Regions from separate parts of the Homo sapiens genome. Here all the other regions are linked to region 2. Evidence: fine-mapped expression QTL. A gene starts in region 2. Each other region holds a variant in brackets. All regions are shown on one strand. Distances are between the middles of the regions. Region 1 overlaps FCSK (fucose kinase). Region 2 holds the start of COG4 (component of oligomeric golgi complex 4). Region 3 overlaps SF3B3 (splicing factor 3b subunit 3). Region 4 overlaps FCSK (fucose kinase). Region 5 holds the start of IL34 (interleukin 34).

What was found.
Region 1: its variant is fine-mapped to the expression of COG4 in spleen (GTEx, PIP 0.96).
Region 3: its variant is fine-mapped to the expression of COG4 in whole blood (TOPMed, PIP above 0.99).
Region 4: its variant is fine-mapped to the expression of COG4 in whole blood (TOPMed, PIP above 0.99). The same link has a PIP of 0.9 or more in lung, prostate, spleen, thyroid and tibial nerve.
Region 5: its variant is fine-mapped to the expression of COG4 in prefrontal cortex (GTEx, PIP above 0.99).

What each region holds. Positions count from the first base shown.
Region 1 is chr16:70,470,365-70,475,463 of GRCh38, reverse strand. FCSK (fucose kinase) reads right to left here. Exons shown (of 24, transcript NM_145059.3): 11 at 5,038-5,099; 12 at 4,392-4,493; 13 at 4,112-4,282; 14 at 2,859-2,923; 15 at 2,111-2,481; 16 at 1,125-1,335; 17 at 770-936; 18 at 453-674; 19 at 1-114. Among named protein-coding and RNA genes, the nearest start is that of FCSK, 18 kb to the right of the region's middle. RefSeq lists an enhancer at 3,699-4,634. The variant C/T (reference allele first, on the strand shown) is at 2,810.
Region 2 is chr16:70,521,439-70,526,533 of GRCh38, reverse strand. It overlaps COG4 (component of oligomeric golgi complex 4), which reads left to right and starts at 2,980. Exons shown (of 19, transcript NM_015386.3): 1 at 2,980-3,161. The coding sequence starts at 2,991. It overlaps SF3B3 (splicing factor 3b subunit 3), which reads right to left and starts at 2,718. Exons shown (of 26, transcript NM_012426.5): 1 at 2,606-2,718. RefSeq lists enhancers at 1,437-2,174, 3,208-3,347.
Region 3 is chr16:70,571,731-70,576,829 of GRCh38, reverse strand. It overlaps SF3B3 (splicing factor 3b subunit 3), which reads right to left. Exons shown (of 26, transcript NM_012426.5): 26 at 1-5,099. The coding sequence ends at 5,017. Among named protein-coding and RNA genes, the nearest start is that of SNORD111, 36 kb to the right of the region's middle. RefSeq lists an enhancer at 1,089-1,158. The variant A/T (reference allele first, on the strand shown) is at 2,638.
Region 4 is chr16:70,479,188-70,484,278 of GRCh38, reverse strand. It overlaps FCSK (fucose kinase), which reads right to left. Exons shown (of 24, transcript NM_145059.3): 23 at 4,876-5,091; 24 at 4,005-4,700. The coding sequence ends at 4,599. It overlaps COG4 (component of oligomeric golgi complex 4), which reads left to right. Exons shown (of 19, transcript NM_015386.3): 14 at 310-426; 15 at 1,458-1,550; 16 at 2,104-2,187; 17 at 2,414-2,515; 18 at 2,792-2,920; 19 at 3,135-3,708. The coding sequence ends at 3,269. Among named protein-coding and RNA genes, the nearest start is that of FCSK, 27 kb to the right of the region's middle. RefSeq lists a silencer at 5,079-5,091. The variant A/C (reference allele first, on the strand shown) is at 2,582.
Region 5 is chr16:70,646,491-70,651,589 of GRCh38, reverse strand. IL34 (interleukin 34) reads right to left here and starts at 5,031. Exons shown (of 6, transcript NM_001393494.1): 1 at 4,615-5,031. The coding sequence starts at 4,642. RefSeq lists an enhancer at 1,299-1,799. The variant G/A (reference allele first, on the strand shown) is at 2,634.

The DNA of each region.
Region 1 (5,099 bases), 51 kb after region 2:
AGGTGTGCAGCTCAAAGCCGCCCCCGAAGGTGCGGAGCAGCTGCTCACTCAGCTGGAGTTCCGAGTGGACATGCACGATCCCTGCACAGATGAAGGCCGCCTTCAGCAGGGCCCCTGCAGAAGGACAGGCATGAGAAAGGAATTCAGTCTCGATGGGCAGACGCAGGCACCCACCCACCCTGGACTTCCCAGCCCAGTGCGGGACTCATCCGGTGGGACAAAAGCCCAGCAGCAGTACTGGCCCCATCCCCAAGCCACAAAAGGGCCTCTGGGCTCCCAGACAGGGACACGTGTCATCTTTGCAGGTTGACTCCCAGCCCCTTCCTTCCCTTCAGGCTCCTCAGCCAGACTGGCTGGCCCTCAGGCCAGACCCCACTGGCCTGCAGTCTCTAGCTTCTGCCCCGAGCCCCCAGCTGGCCAGCCCCACCTGCAGAGGTCCCAGGGTGCCTGACCTGGGGCATGAGGCTGGCAGTAGTCCCGCAGGTCAGCCAGGCACCGGCACACTATCTTCACAGTCATCTCATCCTGCCGAGGCCCCACCGCCAGCCACAGCTCAGGCTCCGGGATGCGGCGTGCCCTGGCTCCGATGGGCCGGCGGCCGTCCACTCGCACAGCCAGGCCCAGCACAGCCCCGCCAAGCTCATAGGCAAGGGGTGGCGTGTCACTCCAGCCCCCTATGGCAGTGTGGCAAGACTCAAGCTGGTCACAGAAGCTGCCAGCCTGGCTCTGGGGCAGCTACCCTCAACCCCACCTGCCACAAGGGGCTCACCAGAGAAATCCACACGGGCCGGGCACTCAGCCACCACCCACTGCCCAGGTCCCGGCAGTTCCACCTGCTCTGTGGAGACAAAGTGCTGGGCTGACATCACAGCCTGGCGGATCAGGATCTGACCAGCCCCCTCATAGTGGCGGGCCGCTCGCACCAGCAAGGCTGGCCTGCCAAGAGAAGGGGGAGGGATGGTGGCATGCAGCCCCAAGCTGGGGGCAGATTGCCTGGCTTTGGGGACCTGACTGTCCCGGGGTACCCAAGGGAGCCCCACCTCTCTCTGGGTTTCCTCCATCAGGGTCCACTTCCCAGACAGCAAGGGGCTTATCCAAGGGATCTGACCTCCATTAGTACACACCTGCTTAGCCACTTGTCCCTCTCCTGGGCAAGCGCCTCCACGCCCGCTGCCAGGTCTCCACACTCCAGGTATGAGAAGGGCCGCATCCACTCAGGGTTGGCAGCTGGCCCGCTCCGCAAGCCCCCACGGCCCTCTGCCATGCAGCCCAGGACGTCCGCCACACAGGCCAGTGCCCGTGCCGCCACACCAGGGTCTCCTGCCCCAGCTGCAACTGAGGGACAAGGAGTTGGGGGTGGCAGGGGAGGAGGCCTGTCTTCAAAATCCTCTTTCACGAGAGGCTACTCAACAGTCCCTAAATGCGCCAGACCCCTCACACCTCCTGGCTTTTGCCCACAATGTATCTTTGACTGTAACTGCACTCCTGCTCTCTGCCTGGCAGAGATCATCTCGTCTTGCCAGTCCCAGCCCATAGGTGTCTCTTCACCCCCACCCAGGACACCCATAGTGGTGAAGAGCTCAGGCTCTGGGCTCAAACCACCTGGGCTCAGGTCTCAGCCTCACCACCAGCTAGCCGTGTGGCTCTGGGTGAGTGGCTTCAATACCATTCATGTCCACGGTCCCTGGGACCTTCCATGAGGTTCAGCCTAGGAGGCTAAGGCTGTGAGCCCCCGGAAGTGTGCTTGGGACCTCATGCAGAGATGACCATGTCCCCTGGGGGCTCTGTCCCCTCGCCACGCTCTGCACCCACATCCTGGCACCCAGTACAGAACACGCAGGGTTTGCCGATGTGCCTAGGACCTAGAGCTCAGCTGCCAGGCCTCAACCTCTGACCAAACCCCACTGACAAGGATGAACATGCCTCAACCTCAGACCAAACCCCATTGACAAGGATGAGGCCTTCCAGAATCCTAAAAGTAAACTCCAGCATGCCCCTTCCCTGCTTGAGCACCTCATGGTCCCCTAGTCCCCTCAGGGGATGGCCCAGAGGACAGGGAGGGCAGGTGCCCCTGGCCTGATTCTGCAGCACTACCAGCCTGCACACTCACCCTGGTCCAGCGTGGCCAGCAGGGGCCCGGGGCAGCCCTCGCGGACAGCAGCCCAGATCAGCGGGCGCAGGCTGAGGTCCTGCCGGGCCTCCAGCACGTGCCGCGCCTTATGCAGGGCCTGGCGGAAGAACAGGTCCCGGCGAGAGGCCAGCGTGGCAGCCCGATCCAGGCACGGCTGCAGCTGCTCCCAGGACAGGCGCCAGGAGGCCCGCCAGGCTCGCAGGGCCTCGCCCCCATCCTCCTGGTGGTCCAGCATCCACAGCAGGTCCTGGGGTCCCAGCTCCCTCGAGGGGTGGAGCACAGGAAAGAGGCGGGCGCTGGGAAGGCAGTACTCTGCGGGCAGCGTCTCAGGGTCCCACAGGTCCCAGGCTCTGATGTGGGGAGAAGGCACATTCCCAGGAGGGAAGCAAAAGCTCCAGTCTCTTCCCCAAGCCCTGAGCCGCCTGTCAGTTCATGGGGACAGGACAGACTCCTCCGAGGTAGCATAAGTGGGCAATTCAGGTCGGGGGCCAGGCTGCCTGGCATCCTTTCCCAGACCATTGAACAAGAAAGCCAAAGTCAGCACAGCCAGAGACTGGGAGCTGCCCGGGGGAAAGTACTGGAGAGAATCCGGCTGCCCAAAACCACCCAGGCCCCTGGATGGTAACACGGCCCGTGCTGCTCTGGGGCAGGGGAGGGACACACCTCAAAGAGCAGCAG[C/T]CACCCCAGCTGCCCAGGCCCACAGAGGCCCTAGGGGTGTCCACCTTACCGAACACCTGTCCTCTTGAAGAATTCACTCCAGGGCACGTTGAGATATGTGCCTGCCCCCTGTCTCTGGGGGAGAGGAAGAAGCAGTCAGGGCTGCAGGGGCCACAGGAAAGGGTTAGAGACACTCGGCCAGGGGGCCAGGAGCTGCTCAAGTGCTCACATGAGGGCAGGAAGACAGACAAAGAACATACTTGACCCACCCAGGCTGGAGTGCAGTGGTGTGGTCAGCTCACTGCAGGTATGAACTCCTGGCCTCCCACCTCGGCCTCCCAGAGTGTTGAGATTACAGGCATGAGCCACTACACCCAGCCATGGAGCAATTTCTGAAATTGTTTTCAGCCCTGCAGCCCCAACACTCCCGCCAAGGTGCCTGAAATCTGGAGCAGAACCCTGGGTTCCAGGCCCAGCCCACCACAACAGGCTGCAGCCCAAGGCGGGTTACCTCCCTCTCTGAATCCCAGTCTCTAGCCTGTCAAATAAGGATAAAAACCCCCACCCAGCCGTGCGCGGTGGCTCACACCTATAATCCCAGCACTTTGGGAGGCCGAGGCAGGCAGATCAGTTGAGGTCGGGAGATTGAGACCATCCTGGCTAACGCGGTGAAACCTCATCTCTACTAAAAAATACAAAAAAATTTGCCAGGCGTGGTGGTGGGCGCCTGTACTCCCAGCTACTCAGGAGGCTGAGGCAGGAAAATGGCGTGAACCCGGGAGGCAGAGCTTGCAGTGAGCCAAGATTGCGCCACTGCACTCCGGCCTGGGAGACAGAGTGAGTCTCAAAAAAAAAAAAAAAAACAACAACCCCACCCAACCAGACTAGCATGGCGAAACCCCATCTCTACTAAGCTGGGCGTGGTGGTGCACGCTGGTAGTCCCAGCTATTCGTGAGGCTGAGGCAGGAGAATCGCTTGAACCTGGGAGGCAGAGATTGCAGTGAGCTGAGATTGGGCCACTGCACTCCAGCCTTGGTGATAGAGCAAGACTCTATCTCCAGAAAAAAAACAAAATCCCCACCCAGCCCACCTGGCAGAGCAGATGCAAGGAGGGAGGTAAAGGCCTGTGGAGACTCTGCTGGTCTCACAGCCTATCTTCACCCTATCTCCTCCCTCATTCTCTCCTCCCTACATCCGACCCTCCTCACAGCCTGTCCCACGGGCCAGTGCTCAGAGAACCCCGCAGTGGGGTGGGGGCCAGGACTCCTTGGGCTCCCCAAAGCCTGAAGATGGGGGTGAGGGAATGCAGGGTGACTGCCTACCTCCCAGCTGTCCAGACGGCCAACGAGGGTGAAGGCGTGGCCCGGGGAGCCGTGTAGCCGCGTGTGGTGTCCCTGCAGGACAAGGTCACGCAGCTCCCGGCCATGCAGGGCCTTGGAGTGGGCTGTATCCAGGCCAGTCACCAAGCAGCCAGCGCCTATGTGAATGGGGCCCTGGTGGGGGACAGGGCAGGCATCCTGGGTGGGCAGGCACCCAACACCCCCCAACACATGCGGGATGCCAGCACCCTCGCCCCAATCTGCCCACACGCTCAGGCCTCACCTGCAGGTGGCAGTGCTGCAGGACGCTCCCAGGACCCAGCTGGACAGGGCCCTCCAGCAGGCAGCTGACCACAGAGCTCCCGGCCGCCAGAAGCTGCTGCTCCTGTGCAGCCAGGTAGGAGGAGCATGAGGGGGGTCGAGGCCCAGGGCTGCCCCAGCTCTCCTCCCAAGCCAAGCATCCAGGGGCAAAGCGTCCAGGCCTACTGCTCCCCTGCCCTGCAGCACCCTAGACTCCTCTCTGGACCTGCCTTGGCCCCAGCCTGAGACCTATTTCCATCCCACCTGTCCAACTACGCCCAACCTTGCCACCCTGGGGGCCACCTCTGAACCCTACCTGTCCCCTTCCTCAGCAGCACGGCACTGACCCAGGCCCACCACTGTCACCCCAGGCAGACCCCAAATAAAGGTCTCCTTTAGCTTCTCAATCAGGCAAGCTCAATGCAGAATCCTGAGTTGGCCACTTACTGGCTCTGTGGCCTTAGGCAAGTTACTTAGCCTCTCTGAGCCTCCAGCACTTCATGTGTAAACCAGGGTAACACCTGCACTCGGGTCATCTGTTCCAAGTGCCGGCTATTTTCTTCCCGGGAATCCACATCCCACCTGACCCCAGACAACCAGCAGGCACCGGAGGGGCAGGGAGGTCTCACCTCCACCTGGGAGTGCACAATCTGGGCCCCAGGAGCCCCGGGGAGTGTGAGGCTGAGCAGGA
Region 2 (5,095 bases):
TTTCTGTATGGGAAATTCTGGATGAAGACAGCAGAACCAGCAGAGCAAGCCCTATTAAGAAACAACATATGTGACCGGGCGTGGTGGCTCACGAGGTCAGGAGTTCGAGACCAGCTTGGGCAACACAGTGAAACCCCGTCTCTACTAAAAATACAAAAATTAGCTGGGCATGGTGCTGTGCGCCTGTAGTCCCAGCTACTCGGGAGGCTGAGGCAGGAGAATCGCTTGAACCTGGGAGGCGGAGGTTGTGGTGAGCCAACATCATGCCACTGCACTCCAGGCTGGGCGACAGAATGAGACCTCATCTCAAAAAAAAAAATAAATAAATAAAAAGCACGGGACCTTGAGAAATCCAAGGTCATTAGTATAGAATTAACATACATATTTGATTTTATTGTTAAACGAGAAGAGAGAATTATGAGTAAACGTCCTCATAAATAACTTTCTGGGCTGAGCAAAAGCAGGGTGGCAAGATCAATGCTCCAGGCTAGAAATGGGTCCTGAGAGATATAAAATTTTCTACTTGAGACTAAGGTATATCTTTTTTTTTTCCTTTTTTTTTTTTTTTTTTTTTTTGAGGCGTCTCAATCTGTCGCCCAGGCTGGAGTGCAGTGGCGCCATCTTGGCTTACTGCAAGCTCCGCCTCCTGGGTTCACACCATTCTCCTGCCTCAGGCTCCCGAGTAGCTGGGACAACAGGCGCCCGCCACCACACCCGGCTAATTTTTTGTATTTTTAGTGGGGTTTCACCATGTTAGCCAGGATGGTCTCGATCTCCTGACTTCGTGATCCGCCCGCCTCCGCCTCCCAAAGTGCTAGGATTACAGGCGTTGAGCCACCGCGCCCAGCCCATAGACTAAGGTATATGTTTAACGTTCTAGGACCACAGTAAAACATGAACGAAAAGGACCGATGTTGAAAGACCAGGGAGTGGAGAAACAACAAAAAAAGCAAAAGAGAGGAAGCTAGGAGCTGCTTCTGAATCCCTGAACAGCTCCCCGCAAGTTACTTTTCATATTTTGTAGCTGATCAAAACAGTCTACTTTCCCCTTTCCTTATAACTGATACAATCCATTACAAACCTTTGGAATTCATTTTTTCCCAAATCTAGTTGGATTCAGGTTCTCCAGCGACACCTTAACTTTGGATCGTGGAGGAAGGTGCATTTCGGAGGATCAGTCCAGTACTAGAAAAACTATATACGAGGCCAGGCGCAGTGGTGGCTCACGCCTGTAATCCCAGCACTTTGGGAGGCCGAGGCAAATGGGTCACTTGAGGTCAGGAATTGAGACCAGCCTGGCCAACACAGTGAAAACCCCTCTACTAAAAATGCAAAAACTAGCCGGGCGCGGTGGCACACGCCTTTAATCTCAGCTACTCGGGAAGCTGAGGCGTGAGAATAGCTAGAACCAAGGAGGAGGAGGCTGCAGTAAGCCGAGATCAAGCCGCTGCGCTCCAGCCTGGGCGACAGCGAGACTTCGTCTCAAAAACAAAACAAACAAACAAAAAATACATACCAGATAAATTTGGTAAGCTTTAAAACTTCCCCCACGTCTGGGCCGGGCGCGGTGTCTCACACCTGTAATCCCAACACTTTGGGAGGCCAAGGCGGGTGGATCAAGGTCAGGAGATCGAGACCATCCTGGCTAACACAGTGAAACCCCGTCTCTACTAAAAATACAAAAAATTAGCTGGGCGCGGTGGCGGGCGCCTGTAGTTCCAGCTACTCGTGAGGCTGAGGCAGGAGAATGGCGTGAACCCGGAAAGCGGAGCTTGCAGTGAGCAGAGATCGCGCCACTGCACTCCAGCCTGGGCGACAAAGCGAGACACCGTCTCAAAAAAAGAAAAATTAGCCGGGCGTGGTGGCACGCGCCCGTAATCCCAGCTAGTCTACTCGGGAGGCTGAGGTAAGAGAATCGCTGGAACCCGGGAGGCAGAGATGGCAGTGAGCCGAGATCGCGCCACTGCTCTCCAGTCTGGGCGACAGACTGTGACTCCGTCACAAAAACAAAACAAAACAAAACAAAAAAAACTTCCCCCACGTCTGTTTACCATTATTACAAAAAGCTTGTATGATTGCTCACTGCATCTTCTCCATCCTCCAAGGAAACATCATCGCATTTAAACTCTGTCCTCCATTACGCAAACGAGAAAATAGAGGTTCAGAGGAGGAGACAAGTTGCCCAACTACCAAAATACAAATTCAAACCGGAGTCTTGGCTCTAAAGACTGTTTCCGTTATTTACGCTTTTAACACGCTCCATCTTTCTATCTTCCCCTCGGTGTACCATTTACTCTACCCAGAGGGAGACATCCATGCCTCCCGCTGCTTGTCACACCTCCCCCGTCTCAGAGTCCCCAGAAGTTAAAAGCAATCTCCACGAGCCCTATTTTGAGATAGAATATGTTCCCACACTGTGGATGGAAGCGAGAGATAACTGCAGGAAGCCGTTTTGGCGCCTCAACCATCCCTCGGTACCTCCTCCTGGTCCCCAGCCTCTCGGGCCTAGACTGCCCGTGACCCCCGCCAAAGTCTCGGGTCCCCCTTCCATATGGCCGGTCTCCGCCTCCCCGGGCCCGGGGAAGTCTCCAGGCTGTTTTTTTACCCTGCAGCGAGAAGGATGGTGTGGATATCCAACGGATGCTACCTCCCTTCAAAACTTAAGCCACCACCAACTCCAACATACTGGCGTCCGCCATTAGACCTCAAGACAGGGACATTCTGGTGGCGCGCGGCGGAAAAAGGCACCCAATCCGCGCCTGAAGAATATATATAATTTTTAAAAAATGCTTCCGTCTTGCTTCCACACGGCATTACAAATTATTTAAACATGCTTTATTGCTTTGCTTTTTCCAGGAGAATAGAAAATTAATACGTTTTTAGAAGTAGACTTTAAAAAAAAAAAACCATTAGAGTTCATTGGGCACTTCTGTGGGCAGCCCCAAATAGGCGCCAACGAAGAGGGGGCCTCGCGGGACCGGAAGTGCCGAATGGGGACCAAGATGGCGGACCTTGATTCGCCTCCGAAGCTGTCAGGGGTGCAGCAGCCGTCTGAGGGGGTGGGAGGTGGCCGCTGCTCCGAAATCTCCGCTGAGCTCATTCGCTCCCTGACAGAGCTGCAGGAGCTGGAGGCTGTATACGAACGGCTCTGCGGCGAGGAGGTGCGGGGTCGAGCCTCTTCTTTTTCATGGAGGATCTAGGGAGAGTGGGAGCCTTCAGTCGGGAAATCCGGGCTGTGGGAAACTCTCCTTGCTGGGGGATACAAAAAAGCGGGAAAACAAAGAAGCGGAAGCTAGTCGGGTATATGAGTAGTCCTGTCAACTCTTTTCACGCTGTCGGACGCGCCGAGCTTGTCTTCCCTGATACCTGGGCGATCTGCAGCCTCTCCTCCCTAGACCCCCGTTGATTTCCCTGATCCATGATCACCAGTTTCTCCACGGGAGTAAAGTTAGTCTGAGAGTATTTGCCAAATTGCTTGGTTCTCAAAATAATAAGCGCCCTTTTGCATTGGCTTAATTTACAAATTATGAAACGCTCTCATCCTGTTATTTAAGAGGGAAGCCTTTGCAGATTAACTTCTTGAAGCGTTTTAAGACTTCCTCTTGTGGGGAGTGATTTGGGGGTGTGATTTTAGCGTTTTGGTCAAATGCACATCTTTGTAGAGGTTTAGCTTTTAAGACTCAGACACAATTCTCTAATCTTGGACAAGTCACTTCATCTCTGGTACCCTTGATATTTTATCAAATGAGGGGTGTGGACTATTCTCCAATTCCTTTCAGTTCATAACGTTCTATTTCCTGCCTCCTTTAATTTTCAGTGGCAACTCGATGCTGTCAATTCACTTTCGAATGTCAGTTGGGTTCCTTGCTAGTCAAAAGAGATCTAAGCTCTAAGCTTGTCAGCTGTTTCCCAGACCAAACTTCTAGCAAAGTTGAGCACAAAAGGCAGTTTCAGCCTGAGGGAGAGGTGATCGTTGATATCTTTGAGTATTTTCAAGTATAAACTTGCACTAACTCTAGCAGTTTCTGATACGTTTTTCAGCAAGATGTGTGTGGTGTTTTTTGTTTTGTTTTGTTATTTTTAGAAACAGGGCCGCTCTCTGTTGCGCAGGCTGGAGTGCTGTTGTGCTGCAATCAGAATGGATGAAACCAGAGGCGCACACCACCGTGCCTGGCTAGTTTAGTGTGTGGGGCTTTTTTTGTCTGGCCTCAGCAAGATGTGTTTTAAAATTTAGTATCTTGCGGGGCGCGGTGGCTCACGCCTGCCATCCCAGCACTTTGGGAGGCCAAGACGGGAGGATCACCTGAGTCAGGAGTTCGAGACCAGCATGACCAAAATGGTGAAAACCATCACTACTAAAAATACAAAACTAGCCGGGTGTGGTGACGCATGCCTGTAATCCCAGCTACTCGGGAGGCTGAGGCAGGAGAATTGCTTGAACCTGGGAGGCGGAGGTTGCAGTGAACCAAGATAGCGCCATTACACTCTAGCCTGGGCAACAAGAGCAAAATTGTGTCTCTTAAAAAAAAAAAAAGCCTGGCGCGGTGGCTCACTCCTGTAACCCCAGCACTTTGGGAGGCTGAGGCAGATGGATCACGAGGTCAGGAAATCGAGACCATCCTGGCTAACACAGTGAAACCCCGTCTCTACTAAAAATACAAAAAATTAGCCGGGCGTGGTGGCGGGCGCCTGTAGTCCCAGCTACTCGGGAGGCTGAGGCAGGAGAATGGCGTGAACCAGGGAGAAGGAGCTTGCAGTGAGCCGAGATCGCACCACTGCACTCCAGCCTCGGCGACAGAGTGAGACTCTGTCTCAAAAAAAAAAAAAAAAAAAATTTAGTATCTTGACTTAACATTCCTAAGCTCGCATTCATTCAGTCATTTAATATGTTGGGTGGAAAATTATGGAAATCTTACAGACAAAATGATATAAGTACTGTATTTGTATTCCATGACTGTCAAGAGGACGTTTTCCTCTGGAACCTACAGAACGATTTTAATAAAAATGTATATGGCCGGGCTTGGTGTCTCATGCCTGTAATACCAGCAGTTTGGGAGGCCGAGGCGGGTGGATCACCCGAGGTCAGGAGTTCGAG
Region 3 (5,099 bases), 50 kb before region 2:
CTACCAATTTACAGGCAGGAAACCAAGACTATGCTTAGAGGCTAGTGAGCCCAGGTCATCTGACTGTATACAGTGCTCTCTTCATGGACTTTGCTGCCTCTTGGCATTTGGCAGGTGGAATCTCGTTTCTGATTGCTTTATGAGGGCAGCATTGCCTTTCTCCAGTTACATCATCGACTCCCTAAAGCTGAGATTCCCCAGTGTGTCCTCATAACAGCTGGAGGCCCTAATAACCCACAGGAAATGGTAGTACTTCCCTTGACCATCACGTGTTACTAGCTTATACACATATACTCACGGCTCCAAATTAGTAACTTCTAAGCCTAAACGCTACCAAATGACCCAACTGAAAGCACCTCTCCTTTCATTATGAGACTGCAGTCAGAGAAGGGAGCAAGTTCTGCTGAGTGGACCTGGGAATTTAAAACTTGACTAGGCTCTGGAAGGCAGAGTGAGAGGTGGGAAACTGAAGGGGGCTTGCCTCTGGGCACCGCCAGAGATGCTGCATACGGGGGTGGGGTGGGGTAGGGTGGGGCTAACAGGGCCCCTCAGCTATTCCAGATGGGCTGGCCCAGCTCCTTTTCCAAATCTGAAACTTCCAAACCTGGTTTTCTTTGATATTTTTTTTCTTCATTTTGAACAAGCAGCAATGTTCATTGTCCATCACAGCTACTGATCATAACACTGGACTGTGAAGCAGACACATGCCCAGACATCACCAGCAGACTCTTTTTTTAAAAAAAAAAAAACAGGGCTTCACGCCCGGCTTTTTGAATTTTTTGTAGAGATGGGGTCTGTTTCCTAGGCTGGTCTTAAACTTCTGGGCTCAAGCAATCTGCCTGCCTCTGGCCGCCCAAAGTGCTGGGATTACCAGGCATGAACCACCGTGTGAATAATTGGGAGCAGACCCCAGGAATCTGTTCTGACAAATGAAGAGGGTTCTAATATCCCACTAGGATTATGAGCCACAACTACAGGTTTCCTACCATTTCCTGACCTAAAACCCCTGCTGCCCACTCCCCACCTCTTCATTTTTCAGACTTGGGACCTTCTGATTTTTCCTGAAGTCCCAAGGTTGTGGCTGAGGAAATCAGATGCAGGCTGCAGGCTCTTCTGAAACTGGTGGCAGGCCCTCTGGCAGACTCACCTCACCACCAACCTCACAGCGACAGAGACTGCCTGGTTATAAACTCTCCTCCAACCTCTGGGTGCAGAACAGAGCTGGGAGGTGGTGGTTCATGGTAGGTGCCCAGTAAACGTTTGTGGAAGAAATGAGCGTAGCAGCCTCTTCTAGTGGGTCAGCATGTCTCCTGATGGCTTAAACAGCTCCTGGCCAAGTGCAGTGGCTCACGCCTGTAATCCCAGCGCTTTGGGAGACCAAGGTGGGTGGATCACCTGAGGTCACGAGTTCGAAACCAGCCTGGCCAACATGGTGAAACCCCATCTCTACTAAAAATACAAAAATTAGCCAGGCATGGTGGTGCATGCCTGTAGTCCCAGCTACTTGGGAGGCTGAGGCAGGAGAATTGCTTGAACCCAGGAGGCGGAGGCTGTGGTGAGCCGAGATTGTGCCTCTGTACTCTAGCCTGGGCAACAGAGTAAGACTTCATCTCAAAAAAAAAAAAAAAAAAAAGAAAAAAAAGAAAAAGAAAAAGAAAAAAAAGAGAAACAACTCTTGGTTGTGCTGGTTCAGACTGGTGTGTAGCCTACACCTGCCCATTTCAGTTCACCTGAACTTCACAGGGTGTGTTGGGCTACCAGATCACTCAAATGTCAATCAACCATGGCCAAGCAGGTGTTTTAAGAGTCCCTATCTTGTCCTCGAGAGCCATCTATTCCTTTCCTCCGTTGTGACGTTTTTTGGACCAGGTTTGATTTCAGCAGCAGAGATGTTTCTTCTGAGCTCTACATATAGCCCTTGAAAATTAATTTTAAGGGTGTAATAAAATATTCACATACAATATTCCATATGCAAATGAGCAAGTGGATGACTCAAACACATGTCATTTTTACTTTGAATAGAAAACAGAATTTAGAGGCTGGGCATGGTGGCTCACGCCTGTAATCACAGCACTTTGGTAGGCTGAGCTAGGTGGACCACTTTAGGCCAGGAGTTCGAGACCACCCTGTCCAACATGGTAAAACCTTCTCTACTAAAAATACAAAAATTAGCTGGACGTGATGGCACATGCCTGTAGTTCCAGCTATTTGGGAAGCTAAGGAGGATCGCTTGAGCTCAGGAGATAGAGGTTGCAGTGGGCTGAGATCGCACCACAGCCCTCTAGCCTGGTCAAGAGAGAGAGATTCCATCTCTAATAAACAAACAAACAAAAAAACAAGAATTTATGACCAGGCGCAATGGCTCACACCTATAATCCCAGTGCTTTGGGAGGCCAAGGCAGGAAGATTTTTTGAGGTCAGGAGTTCGAGGCCAGCCTGGGCAACACAGGGAGACCCTGTCTCTACAAAAGTTTAAAAATTAGCTGAGTATGGTGGCACACATCTGTAGTCTCCCCTACTCTGGAGGCTGAGGTGGATTGCTCGAGCCCAGGAGTTCAAGCCTCAGTGAGCTATGATCACTCCACTGCACTCCCAGCTAGGCAAGAGAGAGAGACTGTCTCTAATAAAATTTTTTTT[A/T]AAAAATTAAAAAATAAAACAGAACTTAGGAATTAAAAAAAATTTGAAAGCCAGACTGATCCCATCTGAATGCCTTTCTGGCTTTCCTCTAACAAGCTCAAGAAAGGCAGCAGCGTGGGAACAGCACACATTCTGGGGACCAGCACTCTCCCTGTGAGACGAGCCTTTTCCAGCGCCGGCAGCTGTCTCACTAGCAATACATTTACACTAACCAAGAAAAGCAACATTCCAACTAGAACCCCCCTCCTCCAAAGGAATGCTATTCTTGGCAAGAGATCTTCCAAAGGAAACATCTGCAGAACCTCTGCCAGTAAGGTCAGGGGAAAGCTGAGGCAGCTAAAAACTTTTCAGTCCTAGGATCCAAGTCACAAGGGCTTAGCAATGGAACAGGATGGAAGCAAACCCAAGGGCAGATCCCTCTGTCTGAGTTCTGCAGCAGCCTCTGATGGGTTTTGCCAAAGCTGGAGAGAGGTCTCTATTTACCTGGTTGCTCAATCAAACCACAGGAGTCAATCAGGTCCCCTTAACAATTACACAGATGGGACTTGTCATTGAGTCACATCCAATCTAATTTTAAACTTTTGTAGGTCCTGCAGCAACAACTATGAAAATTCCTTTCCACATATTCAAGCCCAAATCCTTGTCCTAGCCCTTCCTCTTAACAGAGAACAAGCAAGCTGATGGGCAGACTTCCAGAGGAAGCTCGGTGGTGACAACTCCTGATTCCATAGATTAGGTTTTCCTTTCTTACATAACCCCCTACCTTCTGTACGGAGTGTATGTATTTTAGTCAAACTTGAGTTAGAAAAGAGGCGAGGAGCTGCTCAAGTATCTACGCTGAGTTCCTCAGATGACTGCATGTCAGTATCACACAATTTGATAGAATGGATTTAGGGCCACAGGAAAAAATGAGCCCTGAAATTAGGTTTTCAAAATCTAATTCAGAACTACTGTCTACTATGCAAATTCATGAGCTAAGTGAGAAAAAAACATGTTATTTAGGGATTCGATTCCTGGCAAAACCTGGGTCTCTCTTGACTGATCTAAAACCAAGTCATGATTCAAGAGATACTTAGTTCCAGGAGACAGTGTCACAGTGTCAGGAACCCTCTGTTCTGGGCTCTGAGAGGTTCAGATTGTATTCCACCATTCCTGATTCTAACCCAGTGCTCACCAGATCATTTGCTCAATTTAGATGGCTGAGCACATGCAGACGAAAGAAAGTTTTACATTTGTGAAGTATTGAGAACAGTGAGCTCACTTCTCCAGGTTCAAGGCGCAAGGACAGCCTGGAAGACGAGGGCTTCCCACACAACTAAACAGGAGGAATTCTCAGGGGTGGGCTGGAACATTTCTGGAACTGGGCCTCTTCCACCTAACAGGCTCTCATTATACCCTAAAGGCCCTCTGGAACCCACCTGAGATGGGTGCTGCAGACAGGCCCCACATATACACAGTTCTCAGGGGCAGGGCAGTATCTAGGTTCTTCTGTACTGACCCTTCCTATGGTCCTATGGAGCCAAAGATCGCTTTAGGTGCTGTATCAGTAAAAGGGGCATCTGTTAAGACTCCCCAGCTAGAATTCATGCTAAAATCCCCATACTAACATCCTCAGAGTAGAAGAGGAGGAAGAATCAGCCACCCTTCCTCAATACCCAGTGGGAAGAGGGGTGGGTATACACATGGTTATTGAGGTCATGTTTCATCAGCACAGCAAAAAGAACCAGGAAAAAACAAAGAAACCACCACAGACCTGGGGGTGGGGAGCCACAGAGTGCCGCAAGTCCAAGTCGGTATCTGGAAGGAAGGAGTCTACTCAGTTCTTCCTGCTCTAACTTGGGTTCAAACCTCCCACCTACATCCTCATCTCCAGAACAAGACACATGGATGCCAGTCACCTTAAAAACTAGGTTTCTATTTCTGGTTAGATTCTAGAGCAGTGGAACTCAGGAGTGATACTATACCCTACCCAGTCCCACCACAGCCTGCCTCCTTCCTCCCACAGAGATAACATTGTACAAAACTGTATTTACAAGAAAACCAATTAAAAATTAAGGGTGTGTGCAAAAGTAGACAGGAGAGTCAAGACATATCAATGCAGGGATGGCTTTGGGGAATGGGGGACTCAGGTTCTACACTGGAACCTGGGGTCATGTATCATGTACCAGGTGGGGAGAAGTGTAGCAAATCTCAGTGCCAATTTGAGGGGAAGCCAGTCATTCCAGGAGAAGAGCTGAGGGGAAAGAGCTGTTGACTTTCATAATGCAGTCTTAATTATCCAGTCACCCTCCTGCCACATGGCAGAAGCCAGGTGGCAGTGATGGTGGTGGGGGAAACAAAACACACAGTCTCTGGCAAGCCCCACCGGGAAAGGAGGGCTCAGAAGGCGTAGCGGGTCCGGATATCCTCGAGTTTCTTGGACACTTCGGGTGGGGTTCGGTCCAGTTCTTCAGAGACGTTCT
Region 4 (5,091 bases), 42 kb after region 2:
TGCCCAAGGTCACTCAACTAATACATGACTGAGCCAGGACTTGAACCTAGGAATGTCTGACTCTAAAGACAGGAAAAACTTTCTGGTATTTCTGTTTCTTACTCACTTCCCCGACATTGGTACCCCCATATTACAGAGGGGGAAGTGGGAGCCAAGTGGATAACCACCAGGATAGAATCCAGGTTTTCTGAAACCCATCCGGGCTCTTGACAGGCCATAGCTGGCTGGAGGAGTAGAACTGGCTGGTGGCTCCTCACACTCCCATGGCCCACGCGTGCTCGGTGGTCTTACAGCAGTGTTCTCCCCTAGAGTGACTGCACCAAGCTCTTCAGCCAGGGCATTGGAGGGGAGCAGGCCCAGGCCAAGTTTGACAGCTGCCTTTCTGACTTGGCCGCCGTGTCCAACAAATTCCGAGACCTCTTGCAGGTAAGCCCCAGGTTCAACTGCTGACTGAATCCTGTGCCTGTGTGTTGCTCTGAGAAGATTGTTAGCTGGCTCATCGTGTGCAAGGAAGCCAGGAGGACGGGTGAGGGAGCAGCACGCAAGCCCTGGAGCCTGGAGTTGTGCAGGTCCCTTGAGACTAAAGGCCCTGTTGGTTTCTCAGCAGTGAAGTTGTCACACTGACAAGCCAACATCTGGTGCTCTAGACTTTGCACTTGGCCCCACAATGACAAGAGCTCTCAGAAGATGCTCAGAGGAAGTGGAGCCACATGGTTGTTCTGACCTAGCCGCAGGTGCTGCCTAACATTGAGCATTCTGAAATCTCTTGTGAGAGTTTATCAGAACAGTCTCAAGGCCTCATCGTTACCCTGGACCTGAATCAGCTGAGATCTGGAAAGGGGCATGTTCCTGGCTCCTCCTTTCATTAGCACTAGCTCTGTTATAACCTCCAACAGGGCCTGCAGAAAGCCTCAGGGCTGGAAGAACGCCCTGCAGTCAAGGGATGGGGAGAGGAGAGAGGGAAGGGATGGGGAGAGGAGAGGAGGATGGGGTGGGGAGAGGAGAGAAGGAAGGGATGGGGAGAGGAGAAGGGGATGCGGTGGGGAGAGGAGAGAGGGAAGGGGTGGGGAGATGAGAGGGATGGGGTGGGGAGAGGAGAGAGGGAAGGGGTGGGGAGAGGAGAGAGGGAAGGGGTGGGGAGACGAGAGAGGGATGTGGTGGGGAGAGGAGAGAGGGATGGGGTAGGGAGAAAAGAGGGATGGGGTGGGGAGAAGAGAGGGAAGGAGTGGGGAGAGGAGAGGGAAGGGGTGGGGAGAGGAGAGGGAAGGGGTAGGGAGAGGAGAGGGAAGGGGTGGGGAGAGGAGAGAAGGAAGAAATGGGGAGAGGAGAGAAGGAAGGGATGGGGAGAGGAGAGGAAAGGGATGGGGAGAGGATAGAGGGAAGGGATGGGGAGAAGAGAGAGGGAAGGGATGAGTCGTGCCTTCTGTGTCACATGTCTCCACCTTGTCCTTGTGCAGGAAGGGCTGACGGAGCTCAACAGCACAGCCATCAAGCCACAGGTGCAGCCTTGGATCAACAGCTTTTTCTCCGTCTCCCACAACATCGAGGAGGTTAGCCTGGCCACAGGCAGCCATCAAGCCCCGATGACCCCTCATCCCTAGCCCCAGCTAGAGGGAGCAGAGCCATCTGAACAGACTAGACCTTCCATGCTTCCCAGGCCCACTTCCCCCACCCTGACCCATGAAGACTAGGTTCCTCCCAGGAAACAGTTTGTCCCTAGTCAGAAGGGCTCAGAAAGACATGGAGTTTGCCTTGACCTAACTTATTCCCTTATTGGAGCTCTTTTTGCCCCGCCTATGATAGACTTAGAAGCGTTTTTTTCCTCCTGGCGTAGTGATTTCATTCCTGTAGAACAAGAGATCCAAGAAGGAATAAAATGCCAGGAACTTTACCATGTTATGTGGGCCACTGCTACAGCCCTGGGCTGTTTGCTGGTCAGTTTCTGCCAGCCTGGGTGTCTGAGCTGGTTTTAAACTAGATGAGTCAGAAGGCACAGGGAAGGAAGAATGTTTTACATTATTTTCTTAGAGGGATAGAGGTGGGTGGCAATGAATGGTACTTCTTATGAGGCCCATGGTGACCAGCCCTGCTTCCTGACAACAGGAAGAATTCAATGACTATGAGGCCAACGACCCTTGGGTACAACAGTTCATCCTTAACCTGGAGCAGCAAATGGCAGAGTTCAAGGTGAGCAGGGGCCCTAGGGATCCACTTAGGGAATTACCCACGTCAGCCCAAACCAGCAGCCTGCAGGGTCTCATCACATTCCTTCTGGGGACCCTGAAAGCCCTTCCAACCCTCACCTGTAGAAACTCCCCCGTGGCCTCACGCTACTATCCTCACCACCTAAGACTCCAGCATAGAGGCAGAGGAGTTAGGTGGGGCTCGGCTGATGTCAACCCTCTGTGTGCAGGCCAGCCTGTCCCCGGTCATCTACGACAGCCTAACCGGCCTCATGACTAGCCTTGTTGCCGTCGAGTTGGAGAAAGTGGTGCTGAAATCCACCTTTAACCGGGTAAGGTAAAGGGGTCATGGGTCTGCGGCTCTCGTTTCTCCTCTGAGGAAGACATGTCATGCCACC[A/C]CCCCCAGGACTTGCATCCCCTCTGTCTGCTGCCCACAGGCCCTGCATGTCTGGGTCCAGTCCTGCTCTGGCTTCTGAAGCCGTAGAGCAAACAAACCACAGGGCACCACCTGAGGCCTGGCGGGCCTTGCCACCCAGCTCTGGGGGCAACTGGAGGCCAGTTCTGCTTGGCCAGGCCTAAGTAGTGACTGGGCTTGGGTTCTCCTGCAGCTGGGTGGTCTGCAGTTTGACAAGGAGCTGAGGTCGCTCATTGCCTACCTTACCACGGTGACCACCTGGACCATCCGAGACAAGTTTGCCCGGCTCTCCCAGATGGCCACCATCCTCAATCTGGAGCGGGTAGGTGGGGCACCCTTGGCCCAGCCAGGGAGGGGTGACTGAAAGAGGCAAAGATGGATCCCCGCCACTTCCCTCTAAACCATGTCTGCCAGCAGCCAGCTCTATAGGACACCTTCCCCTTCCCGGGTGCCCCTGCTCTGCCCCTGGTAGAGGCCAGAGCCCTCTTTCAGAATAACCCCACCTTGCTGACTGGTCTCTATGTCCTTCCCCACAGGTGACCGAGATCCTCGATTACTGGGGACCCAATTCCGGCCCATTGACGTGGCGCCTCACCCCTGCTGAAGTGCGCCAGGTGCTGGCCCTGCGGATAGACTTCCGCAGTGAAGATATCAAGAGGCTGCGCCTGTAGCTGCCTGGATGAGCACACCTGGCTCATCACACTTGCAGGCCTGTTCCCTAAGGGGCCCCAGCCAAGGAGCTGAGCGAGGCTGTCTGGCTTGGGGGAGATCTGACAGCCCAGACCTTTCTACGGCTGGCAGCAGAGAAACAAAGTCTGGACCCACTCCATGCTCTGCCCTCAGACCTGGCCAGGTGATGCTCTGGGGGCAGCATCTCCCCACCGAGAGAAGCGGGCTCCTAATGAGGTGGGAAAGCCACGGCAGGCAGCGAGCAGCCCAGGCCAGCTTTCTGCATGGATGGTCAGTCTCTTGCCCTCAAACACTACAGCAAACAAGCTACCCCTGCCAGTCCTAGACAACTTGGGTACATCTGGGGACCTAGCAGTTAGGCTTGACTTTGAGGAGAGGCTGTGATGTTTATGATCCCTGAATAAAGCTACTCCTTGGAGAGATGCCAGTGTGCTGTTACCAGGGAGGGCCAGATGCTATGGGGCAGGGCAGGTCTATCAGTTGCACTGAAATAGGAAGGTAAAACCCAAGACCTCAGCCTGCTCCCACACACAGTGCAGCACACAGCTGTGTCCGGGGCCCACATGATGGCAGGAGCCCCCATCCAGTCCCAGACCCTCGTGCCCCTCTTGGGCCCCCAGCACCACAAGCTGGATCACCCCAGGGCCAGTTCCCCATGGTGTAGAGAAGTGGGAACTGCTCCCAGCAGGAGCAAAAGTGACTTTACGAGGACCACCTGCAAGGACAGAGTGAATTTATTCCAAGAATGCCAGTCCTGAGAACCCACTTCCCACAGGCACCAGGTCACTTGGCACGCTCCGTAGTTTTGCTAGTTAAGGCCTGGGATGGCAGTGAATCACTGGGTCACTGCTACCAACTTGGCAAGGGACCGCCACCCTCACTCCCACGCTCACATGAGGGTTGAGTGTAAGTCTACAACTCTAAGCCATAGGGAATGCCTCAAAGGGCCTCTTCAGGGTTGGCCTTGCTAAGGGACTCCCAGCCATATGCCAAGGCTGGCTGTCAACCCTTTCCAGGGCCCTTGTGGAATGAGAAGGCCAGCCATAGGATTTGTAAAGGCCACGTGGGATACTAAGCTTGGGACCTTCCTATGTCCAGGAGGAACAGAGGCTACATCTAGGCCCCTGTCCACCAGGTCACAGTCCTGTCCCAGGCACTCTCTGCTTGCCCAGATCTTGCTCTGGTCAGCTTCCTTTGGGAGCAGATTCGCAGAGGTGGGTGGGGAGTAGGAGGTGGAGGTTCCCATGGGGCAAGGAAGGTGGGGGACACTGTAGCTCCAGGTTTTCTCCTGTTGCAGAGAGAAGCCAGCTTCATGGGAAAGGGCAACAGGTTGAGGCCTCGGTCCCCAGCAGCTTCAGGCTCAGGCCCTGAGTGTCCACTTCAACCAGGTGGATGCTGTAATTCCCAAGGCCCTGGACAAGACAGGAAGTATTTAGAAGGCTCTGGACAAATCTCAGGCCTTCTGGAGGCTGGACTGGGCCTGCAGGACCAGGGGGACTTACAGATATAGCCCCTGGTTAACTGGTGGGCCACAGTGAGGTCTCTTGCCCCCAGAGGTCTCTTTACCAACCCCAGCCCCATCAGTACCTCGGTCTTGGCCAGCACCGCCTCCAAGGCCTCCTTTTGCTGTGGCTCCTTGGTCAACAGATAGAGAAAGCCTCCACCGCCTGCCCCAGCCAGGCTCTGGCCATGCACGTGGGGGGCCAGGACATCCATCATACGCCGCACAGTCAGGGGCTCACAGCCTGGAGCCATGAGCTTCTTCTGCTCCCAGTACGAGGTCAGGCACTGGCCCAGCAGAGG
Region 5 (5,099 bases), 130 kb before region 2:
TGCCCTGCTCAGGCCTCCTGCCTCGCCTTTGTCCCTGCAGGACCTCCCACCAGGAGTGCCCTTGCTCAGCTCAGAGCCTCAGGTCTCCTCAAGCCCTGTACCCCATATAGCCCCACATTTTTTGCTAAGTTGCAAGTCTGCAATCTATCTTGCACTTCCTCTCTCCCTCTTCCCCTGTGCCTGATACAGTATTGGGTGAGAAGAACAGATAAACATGAACTGAACCAGTGTTTGGCCCTTTAACATCTGCTTACTTTCTGTCCTAAGTCCTGAACCCCTCAGCTTAGCATCTACTCTTGCAGGTCAAGATCATCCCTGCCTCCTGGGCTCATGCTTTGCCCTGCGCTAGGTACCCTCTCACAACACAGACCTCTTTCAAAGCCTCCCAGAGACTCTTCTCTCCCCCCCATCACCACGCCAGGGTCTCCCCTTTCTGCATCAGCCCCCATCGGTCTCTGTCTCCAGCACCACCTTCCCCATTCACTCATGACCTGGGATTACAGGTGCGCGCCACCACATCCGGCTAATTTTTTTTGTATTTTTAGTAGAGACGGCGTTTCACCAGGTTGGCCAGGCTGGTCTTGAACTCCTGACCTCGTGATCCACTCACCTCGGCTTCCCAAAGTGCTGGGATTACAGGCGTGAGCCTGTGTGTGAATCCATAACGCAGTTAAACACTGCACAGCCCAGCGTGCTGAGAACTTCACATGTGCATTTGGGGATTCGCCTCAAGCAGTAGAAATGGGAGCAGACATTGTCATCCCTTGCAGAGCTCGTTAAGGCACAGGTTGTCCTGCCTGCCCCAGAGTCTCTGCTCAACCAGTCTAGGATGCAGAGAGTCTACCTTTCTAACAAGGTCCCAGGTAAAGCTGTGGCTGGGGGTCTGGAACCACAGACCTAGAGCAACAGTTGCAAGCTGGTGTCCCGAGAGCCACCTCTGGTCCACAAGGATTTCACACAACAATTCAAAATTTCAGCTTTTCTTTAAAAAAATCAGTACCTCTGTCCACACTGGGTCTTTTTTCCTGTGTGGCCATCACCATTGGCCGTCTACTTCACCTCCCAACCCTACAGCACCTGCCCTTCTCTGTGTCCCGTTCTGGGGCCCTGGGGACCCGGCAGCTGTGGCCTCAAGGCAGGGACTGTGCCTTGGAGTGACACTGAGCCTCCCAGCCTGACACGGTGGGCACACAGCTGCCCTGGAAACCCTGTCCACAGATGATCTGCCTCTCCCCCAACTGGGCAGCCTTCCTCTGAGTGCAGCCCAAACATCATTGCTAAGGGCAAGTTTCTTTTTTTGCTGCCTCCACCCACCCAGAGAAACAGGTTAACAAACAGGGACCAGGCAGGGACAGCACAGCCCCAACCTCAAGGCCACTGTCCCCCACATGCTCTGCACACCAGGAACCCCACAGCCAGTGCCACCCCTGACCTTGGTCAGGAGACCCACCCTGCCCTTGTCTTAGCCCAGAGGTAAGAACCCACAACACAGGCTGGGCACGGAGGCTCACACCTGTAATCCCAGCACTTTGGAAGGCCGAGGTGGGCGGATCACCTGAGGTCAGGAGTTCAAGACCAGTCTGGCCAACATGGTGAAACCCCATCGCTACTAAAAATACAAAAATTAGCCAGGCGCAGTGGCAGGTGCCTGTAGTCCCAGCTACTCGGGAGGCTGAGACACAAGAATCATCTGAACCCAAGAGGCAGAGGATGCAGTGAGCTGAGATCGTGCCGCAGCACTCCAGCCTGGGTGACAGAGTGAGACTCCGTCTCAAAAAATAAAAATAAAAATAAAATAATAAAACAACCTGCAAGACAGAGAGGAGGCTTAAGAAAGATCTGTGTGAGTACGGTACTCCCTTCCTGGTTCCCTGGCCCTGGGTTGACCCTATGTGCAGTGACAAGTGAGGCTTGTCACCCCCAGCCCCGGGGACCAAATCTGAACCTGTGCAGTGGGTTAAATAGCATCTCCTCCAAATCCACATTCACCCGAACCCGAGTGTGACCTTGTTTGGAAATGGGGTCTTTGTGAAGTAGGAGGTAGGACCGACTCCAGAGGCAGAGCCCTGACACTGGACCAAACTGAGGACTAGTGAAAACAGGGGTGGACGGGGCAGAAGCAGCATTCCAAAAGACATGCTCAGCAGTGTGCCATGTCAGTTTACCATTGCCATGGCAACGCCTGGGAGTTACCACCGCTTTCCATAGCAATGACCCAATGTCCCAAAAGTTACTACCCCTTCCCTAGAAATGTCTGCATAAACTGCCCCTTAATCTGCATGCAATTAAAGGTGGGTATAAATATGACTGCAAAAGGCCCCGAGCTGCTCCTCAGTACGCTTCCTCTGGCACAGCCCTGCTCTGCAGGAGCTGGCACAGAGCTATAACATCTCTTCAGTAAAGCTGTTTTCTTCTACCACCAGCTTGCCTTGAATTCTCTCCTAGGGAAAGCCAAGAACCCTCGCAGGCTAAGCCCCCTTGGGGGCTCGCCTGTCCTGTGCCACTTACAGGCATTATTAAATGAAGGATGTCAAGATTAGGCCATCCTGGATTTAGGCAGTTCCCTAAATCCAGTGACTAGTGTCCTAGGAAGAAGAGGAGAGGACATAGAGACACACAAAGGGAAAGGCCAC[G/A]CAAAGACAAAGGGAGATCTGAGTGACTAGGCCACAAGCCAAGGAAGCCAGGAGCCACCAGGAGCTGGAAGAGGCAAGGGAGGCTCCTTCTCGGCACCTTTAGAGGGAACGCAGCCCTGCAGGCACCCTGATCTCACACTTCCGGTCTCCAGAACTGTGAGACGACACATTCCTGTTGCTCTAAGCCACCCGAAGCTTTCTAATTGGTTATGGCAGCCCAACTTCCTCAGCACCCCAGCCCCTGGGCACCAGCCCCCACCTCAATCTGCTGCTCTCCCTCTCCCTCATCCCCCAGCCAGTCTTTGCCTGGTCCTAAGACCCACCCCTCCTGGAGCTTTTTCCCCTCTCCCTTGCTTTTCTTTCTCTCTTTTTCTTTTCTCCTTTTTTTTTTTTTTTTTTTTTTTAAAGACAGGGTCTCACCCTGTTGCCCAGGCTGCAGTGCAGTGATGCGATCCTTGCTACTGCAGCCTCAACCTCCTGGGCTCAAGTGATCCTCCCACCTCAGCCTCCTGAGTAGCTGGGATTACAGATGTATGCCACCACACCTGGCTAATTTTCCTTTTTTTAGAGATGGAGTCTCGCTATGCTGCCCAGCCTGGTTTCAAACTCCTGGCCTCAAGCCGTCCTCCTGCCTTGGCCTCCCACAGTGCTGGGATCACGGGCGTGAGCCACCAGCCCAGCATCCCTTGCCTTTCATTCGCACCTCCACCTCCAGAATGACCCTCATTCCCTCCTGCACAGACGGTGACAGCAGTAACTCCTACAAACACCACCAGACTGATCTTCAAGAGCAGAGGAACTCCCAATCACGATTCCACCCCCGCCGGGCTCTCAAATCCTCCAGGGCTGCCTGCTATGGGGAGGGAGGCACACTTTGCTTGGCTCTCAAGGCCTCAGCCAGCCGGGTCCAAACCAGCTCCCAGCCTGGCCTCACCATCCCACCGCCAAACCTTTGCTCACACTGGCCCCTCTTCCTGGAACATGGGCCTCATGACCCCAGGTCTACCTGTGTGACCACCACCCCACCTTCTAGACCATTTCCAGTAGCCCCTCCCCCATGCTGCACCCCTGCTTCTCATGACCTAGGGGTTTCCAGAACATTGGGTCCAGCTGGGTCCTTCCACCCATCCTTAATGTCCCAACCCTTTGTTGTATATTTCCACAAGGGCCAGGGTGGACCCAACTCTTCTTTCAATCCCTCGCAGGCTCATACCCCAAACCTCCAACAGTTCCTGAGCACTCAACCCTGTGCCAGGCGTTGGAGACAGAGGCACGAGACAGCAAGGTCCTTGTTGTCATGGCAGTGACTCTGCAGTGGGCACGTGGGAGGCACCGGAAAAATGTGTTGAATTTGAGTCAATTGAACTGGATCTTGGAGACTGAGGGGATCTTGGTCTGGCCTCCCAGCCAGCAGGCATAAGAGGCTTCCAGATCCTTTTTTTCCTTTCTGTCCTCATTTCAACTTATTTTTCTTTTTACCAACAGTGTTATCTTTCTGCTTTTTAATTCTGTTCTGTTATGGAGGGAGGGTTGGAGGGGAACAGGCTGCCTTCTCCAGGCATCTGGCTGCTCTTCTGCCGTGGGTCTTGGGTCCCTAGACACTTTCACCAGCCCCTGCCCCCCTCCACCGGCCATACCCAGGACTGGGCCGCTGCTGCCCGCCCGGGGCTCCCCAACACCCACAAGCCTGGAAAGGTGAGATGCTGCCACCTACCCCCAGTGCCTGCCCCGACCTAAGACCACCCTGAGGACCATGCCCACCCAGCCAGAACTGCCCACCCAGCTTGCCCGTCGGAGCCCGAAGTGAGCGGCAGACAGGGCAGACGGCGGCCGTGGGAATCTCAGAGGGTGTCTGCAGTCCGGCTGGGAAGCATCGCAACTTCTCACCAGCAAGAATGCCCTGGTTGCTATGGTTACGGCAGATCCTGGATCTAGGCCAAGGCCTCCCAATGCAGGTCCCTAGGGACCCCCCAGTACTCACAGCGCAGCCAGGTGAAGCCCCGGGGCATGGTGGTGTTCCTCGTCCCCCTGAGAGCTCAGGCGCCGTCCCCAGCAGTGTGTCCACAGAGGCCTAAGCACGGCCTACATGGCCTCGGGGCAGCAGAGGTGGTCACTCAGTCAGGGAAGGGCTGGCCCTGGAGGAGTGGCTGGGCTGCGGGAGTGAGCAGGTGCCCCAAGGGCAGCAGCTGCCCTTATCTGCCCGGCAGCGTGGAGGACAGCCGGGGGGCGGTGGCCGCAAGTCCCATGGCAGCCCAGAAGCAGGTCTGAGCCGGTGGCTTGGGGGTCTTTCGGGGTCTTCCTTTCCAAGGAGCAGGAGGAGAGAGTCCCTGGCAGGCCCCTCGGAATCTGGGGCTGGGTGACGCTTTCTCTGATTTCTCCGACTGCAGCTGCTCAGTGTGAAATCTGGCTCTAGGAAGAGAAAGGAGGAGAGAAACTGATTATGTAAGAGCAGCGCTGCCACTCAGC